Linked DNA regions of Homo sapiens: region 2 is reported to be linked to region 1. The links are microRNA targets in miRTarBase. Many come from high-throughput screens and were not tested one by one. Region 1 holds a microRNA gene; the other region holds the end of a gene's coding sequence. Distances are between the middles of the regions.
Evidence for each region. The annotated mature microRNA hsa-miR-6779-5p reads CUGGGAGGGGCUGGGUUUGGC and lies in region 1 at 1,851-1,871, shown strand. An mRNA with a match to its seed (bases 2 to 7 or 8) in the 3' UTR can be bound and repressed. Matches are read on the target gene's strand: a 7mer-m8 pairs with bases 2 to 8, a 7mer-A1 pairs with bases 2 to 7 and ends in A, and an 8mer does both.

Region 1 (3,083 bases):
AGGCCCAACTCAAGACTCCTGGGTGGTGGTGGTCAAGGTGGGGGACTCTGTAGCCAGTAGAGCACTGTGGGGGCAAGAGACTGACTTGAAGGCTTGGAGCCTCACATGCCCGCCTAGTGGGGTGGTCCTGAGGGATATGACTTCTTTGGGCCTCTCTGCTCATTTTTGGAACCTGACCCGAGAAGGAGCCCATCCAAGACAATGTCCCGCCCTCAGGGAGGGTCTGGCAGTTTTTATCCCTAAAGGCTGGGATTCTCAGCGGAGCATCCTAGGCTGTAGTACCCACGACATCTTGCACACAAGAGGTGGAATCGCCTGTTGATGAAGAGCAAGGCTCTGGAATCTGTGATCTTGGGCCACTCACTTCACTTATCAATCCCTTCGCTTCCTTCTTGCCTGTTACATGGGGTCTGCAATCTACCCCTCAGGGGCGCTGACGAGCTCACATGAGCCTGTGACATAAAACACCTAGCACGGCCCTGGCGCAGTAAGAGCTCAGGAAACGGGCTGCTGCTGTGGTTACTGTGGACCCAGGCGGAAACAGAGCAGCCCCGCCCCTGCCGCAGGCATATAAAAGTGACCACTTGGCCGGTCACGGTGGCTCACGCCTGTAATCCCAGCACTTTGGGAGGCCGAGGCGGGTGGATCACCTGAGGTCAGGAGTTTGAGACCAGCCTGGTCAACATGATGAAACCCTGTCTCTATTAAAATACAAAAAATTAGCTGGGCGTAGTGGCAGGCGCCTGTAATCCCAGCCGCCCAGGAGGCTGAGGCAGGAGAATCACTTGAACCCTGGAGGTGGAGGTTGCGGTGAGCTGAGATCGTACCATTGCACTCCAGCCTGGGCGACAGAGCCAAACTCCGTCTCGAAAAAAAAAAAAAAAGAAAAGGGACCACTCACTTTGGTCTGATTCTTCAGTTCTCATGGTCCTTTTACATCGGTCATTTCATTGCATTCTCCAACAGTGTCTGAGGGAGACTGGTGTCTCATTTTGCAGAGGTGAAAACTGAGGCTTGGCAAGATTAGGTAGCTTGTCCAAGGACACACAGCTGGTGCTTCCAGAGCGAGACCTGGCTTTCTGTACCCAAAGCTCTTGGGTAGTCTCTCCCATCCTGGGATCTTGAGGGTCACGGGAAGGAACTGGGTGGTTTGCAGTGGGACCCTTCACCTAGTGCCTTCTGACCTTGCAGATAAAATACCATGAGGAGTTTGAGAAGAGCCGCATGGGCCCTAGCGGGGGCGAGGGCATGGAGCCAGAGCGTCGGGATTCACAGGACGGCAGCAGCTACCGGCGGCCCCTGGAGCAGCAGCAGCCTCACCACATCCCGACCAGTGCCCCGGGTGAGTGCAGGTCCTGTTGGTGCAGATGACCTGAGGCGAGGCCAGTGGGGTGGGGAGGAAGCCAGGAGAAGACAGACAGACAGATACACCTTCCGGAGCCTTGCTCTTAATCAACAGGCGATTATGCCTCTTGTGTGCAAGAGGGGACCAGAGGACCTGAGGCCGGGCCAGCTGGGGTGGGGAGGAAGTCGGCGAGAGACAGACACACACACACACACACACACACACACACACACACATGCACGCACGCATGCAGGCGAGGAAAAGACTGCTTCCCAAGACCCCAAGTTCCATTCTCATCCAGAATGAGGACGTGAGCACCAGGGTCAGGCCTGTACTGGGCCAAGAGGATTGAAAGGAGAGGCCCCCAGGTCATGGGGCTCAGAGCCCCTGCGTGGGATACAACACACAGGCAAATGTGCACACGTGGACATCAGCCTTTGAGCTGTGGGGCTTGAGCCAGGTTGGGGGCGGGGTGGAAGTGCATGGTATGGACTTCTCGGGAGCTCTGGGAGGGGCTGGGTTTGGCAGGACAGTTTCCAAGCCCTGTCTCCTCCCATCTTCCAGTTTACCAGCAGCCCCAGCAGCAGCCGGTGGCCCAGTCCTATGGTGGCTACAAGGAGCCTGCAGCCCCAGTCTCCATACAGCGCAGCGCCCCAGGTGGTGGCGGGGTGAGTAACCCTGGCCGGAGGGGAGAGGCCAGAGGCAGGGGGTCCTTCGGGAAGGCTTGGACACAGCTCATGGATTCTCCTGACCTTTGCACCCACCCTCTGTTGTGTGTGATGATAAGGATCTCAGCCTTGTGAGCAGAGAGGAAATTGGTTGGCGTAGTGGGCAGAGGCTGGCTGGGACTGGGGCCCTGCGTTCCAGCCCTGGTGTACCATGGGCAGGTTGCTCACCCTGCTTTGGGTGGGGTTTCCTTACCCCAGCTACCTGGGAACACACAAGGCAACTTTCTGCATGGGGCCTTCCAGCACTGGGCGCTGCTCTCCTCGCTTCATGAGGATGGCCCCCACATCCTTCAGCTCTCAGGCTGCCCCTGCCTCTGAGGGGCCTCCCCAGCCATGTCGTGTAAAGCGCATCACCCTGATGCTTTGCATCACTCGACTCCGCTGGCTGCCTTCAGAGCACTTTTTCCAACTAAAAAGAGCTCTTCGTGTTGGTCACCTTCTCTGTGTCCCCTGCTGGGCTGGGGACCCTGGCAGCGTCCGTCTGGTTCACCTACTCTGAGCCAGGCCTAGAGCAAGTGAATAAGCCCAGCAGGAATGGGGTGAGATCAGGCTTCCTGAGCCCTCAGAGCTGAAGTCCCGGCTCTGTAAGTCCTGCCACTCACTCCACCCATGGGTGCCGCTGAGCCACCCTTACCAAGCTCCTGGCAGGCTCAGCGCCTCCAGGCTGGGTGCCTGGGAATTCAAAGTAGCTCACGTAGGAGCAGAACAGATACTTAGAGAGATAAAATCGCCTGAGATAATGGCTGGCTGGAGTCTGATGCTCTGGGCACACAAACAAAGGGATGTTAGGACTGCCCAGGGCACTGTGGGCGCAAGAGTTAGTCTGAAGTATAAGGTTCCAGGCAGCCCAGCCAGTCCCTCCCTCCTCAATGGGTCTGTCCTGGATGTGTAGGGTCCATCTCTGAATATAAAGCCACCTCTCTGCCCTCTGGGGGCTTACATTCCAGTCAGGGGGACAAACAAGAAAACAATAAGAAAATAGGTGTATAACATAAGGTCAGCGGTGACAC
Region 2 (3,083 bases), 18 Mb from region 1:
TGGTGTGCTGAGCCTGGCCTGCTGCACCCTCTATGGGATCTCCTGGCAGTTTGACCCTTGCTGCAAGTACCAAGTGGAGTACGACGCCTATAAACTGTCGCGCCTGCCTCTGCACACACTCACCTCCTCCACCCCGGTGGTGCTGGTCCGGAAGGACGACCTGCACAGAAAGAGACTGCACAACACGATAGCACTGGCCGCCCTGGTGTACTGTGTAAAGAAGATTTACGAACTCTATGCCGTATGATTTCAGTAGAACAGGGAGCGAAGCAAAACCACCCGGCCCACAAGAGACAACAGAGTATTCAGATCGCCACACTCTGTGAGGCAGCAGAGCCTGGGCAGGTGTTTGGCTTAGTATTTGTTATTTTTAAAAAATAACAGATCACGGGTGTACCCAGGGTTTTTCAGCTCATTACACTAAGATGTGGATTTCCATAACCCAAGAGGGGGGTCTGAGGCTGTGGAAGTCCGACTGGGCAGTGGAATGCTGATGGAGGCAGACGCTGCCGAGGGGGTGTGGACGTGCTTTGGGGGAGGTCTTTAAGTCTATTGTTTAACTGTACCATCCAGAGCCCACCAGAAGCTATTGATCATTAAAATTATGAGAATTTCAACTCCCGCTGTTCTCTCTTTCCATGACTGCCCGCAGCTGCTGCTGCACATCTGCTCTGGGTGGCGGCTTGCACATGGAAGGAGCAGGTGCCATGGTAGCCACCCTGCCCTGCTCCTAGCTGCGGCCCAGTGTTACCACTTACAGCGACGACAAGCCTAGATCCAAGGTAGTCCTGGGGCCAAACCCCGCCCAGGAGCAGTCTCCTGGCTCACCTTGGCCTCATCATTCCGAAGGCCATCACTGCCACCATGCTGTTCAGGAACATGGTAGGATAAGGTGACGAGGCTTGGAGGCCTTTGGGTGTCCACTTGAGTTCACGTGGGGAACTCTGGGCTCCAGGATCGCTCTTCAGAGATCTGAACACCTGTGTTTTCTTTGAAGCACCAAAACTCTTCCTACTGTGGACCATGAGTTTATTAACCCATTGCCCTAGGCTGACAGAAGAGCCCTCGGAGCAATCTTGGAAGCACCCCCTGGCCTCAGTGCTCGCTGTTCCACAGGAGCCAAGCCGGTGCTTCTCCCTCACACCAGAAGGTAGACTGTGTCACCTGCCACATTTCCTCTAAGGCAGGGGTGGCCAATCTTGACTTCCCTGTGCCACATTGGAAAAAGAATTGTCTTGGACCACACATAAAATACACTAACGACAGCTGATGAGCTAAAAAAAAAAAAAAATCACAAAAAAATAATGTTTCAAGAAAGTTTACAAATTTGTGTTGGGCCACATTCAAAGCCATCGTGGGCTGCATGAGGCCCATGGGCTGCTGATTGGTGATTGGACAAGCTTGCTCTAAGGCTTTGGGTAAATGGGAAATTCTCTCTTCCACAAAAAGGCTGGGGTGCCTGTCTTCACTTCTGCCTTCCTAAAGCCCCATTCATCCCTGAAGAGCCACATGGCACCTCCTTCTGAAGGCCAGTCTTTTGTTTTGTTTTGTTTTGTTTTTGAGACAGAGTCTTGCTGTCACCCAGGACGGAGTGCAGTGATGTGATCTCAGCTCACTGCAACCTCCACCTCCCGAGTACAAGTGATTCTCCTGCCTCAGCCCCGAGTAGCTGGGACTATAGCTGTGTGCTACCATACCTGGATACTTTTTGTATTTTTAGTATAGATGGGATTTCGCCTTGCTGGCCAGGCTGGTCTCTAACTCCTGGCCTCAAGTGATCTGCCCGGTTCGGCCTCCCAAAGTGTTGGGATTACAGGCGTGAGCTGCCGTGCCTGGCCAGGCCAATATTTAAGAGACAGCCAAAGTGGTTTCTCACCTAGTTTTAAAGTCCCCATCAGGAAGACCTGATGTCACAGAGTAATGAAAGGGTGCATGGGAAGGATTCACGAGGGGTGATTGGGCCATTTTTTGTAGGGGAGATTCACACCTCTTAAGGATTTTAAAAGGGACCCACGGCCCACAAAAAGTTTAAGAAACTTTGATTTAATTCCAAGAGATTTAGAAATAACTTATCACTCAGTTGAGTGCTGGGGGCATGACGGTGTTGGGTGTGCACCACTGTTTACGTGGCAGTCTCTGGGCACCTGGAATAATGGTAAAGAGGGAACTGCCTTAGCCACACAACTGATCCCGTAAAAACATGCCTCATCTCGACAGCAGTGTGAGTTGAAATGCAGCTGCCCATGACCCCTCAGGTGTCTGAGTGCTGGCATCTGAGCCTGCTGGGCAGGTTTTTGGTTTTTTTTTTTCTTAATAATGCCCAGGTTTGGAAAGGGAGCCCCATACCTGGCCTGGAAGTGCTCTGCCAACAAGTTAGATTTCATGGGGGAATTGACTAGAAGGCACAAGCTGGACAAGCCAGACAAGTCGAGGCAACCTCAAGTCAGCTGAGCAGGAGCCCTCCCCCGAGGTAGAATCCAGCTGCAAATGGGTAGCTCTTCTACCATTTCCCAAGCTGCACTGAACCAAGTGATTCTTATTGGATGTATTAACCTAGATTCTGAAATGCCATCTTAGTTACATGGCCCCTGGCCAGGGAGATGGGGATGAGGTGCTGGTGTGGACTGCAGGCAGGGGTTTCGTGTGCCTGAGGCTGGCAGCAAGAAATGTGCCTCCCTTCCCACTGTCAGTGCTGACTTCTCTGTTCCTGCCATTGTCCTTGCTAGATGATCAGTCATGGCAGAGCTGCTGACAAGTTGCTTATGGTCATCTGTGATATGCGACAGTACTTCTCAAGAAATAGCATTTGAAGGCTGAGTGCAGTAGCTCATGCCTGTAATCCCAGCACGTTGGGAGGCTGAGGCAGGAGGACCATTAAACACTTGAGTCCAAGAGTTGAAGACCAGTCTGGGCAACATAACAAGACCTGTCTCTACAAAAAAAGACAAAAATTAGCCAGATGTGGTGGTACGCAAATGTGGTCTCAGCTACTCAGGAGTCTGAGGAGGGAGGATCATTCAAGCCTGAGAGGTTGAGAATGCAGTGAGCTGTGATCTTACCACTGCACTTCAGCCTGGGCAACA

Region 2: miRTarBase lists TMEM11 as a target of hsa-miR-6779-5p. The part of its 3' UTR that is shown has no 7-base or 8-base seed match.

What each region holds. Positions count from the first base shown.
Region 1 is chr17:38,913,134-38,916,216 of GRCh38, forward strand. It overlaps MIR6779 (microRNA 6779), which reads left to right and starts at 1,846; the gene lies at 1,846-1,909. LASP1 (LIM and SH3 protein 1) reads left to right here. Exons shown (of 7, transcript NM_006148.4): 5 at 1,192-1,342; 6 at 1,910-2,013.
Region 2 is chr17:21,195,488-21,198,570 of GRCh38, reverse strand. It overlaps TMEM11 (transmembrane protein 11), which reads left to right. Exons shown (of 2, transcript NM_003876.3): 2 at 1-617. The coding sequence ends at 247. Among named protein-coding and RNA genes, the nearest start is that of TMEM11, 17 kb to the left of the region's middle.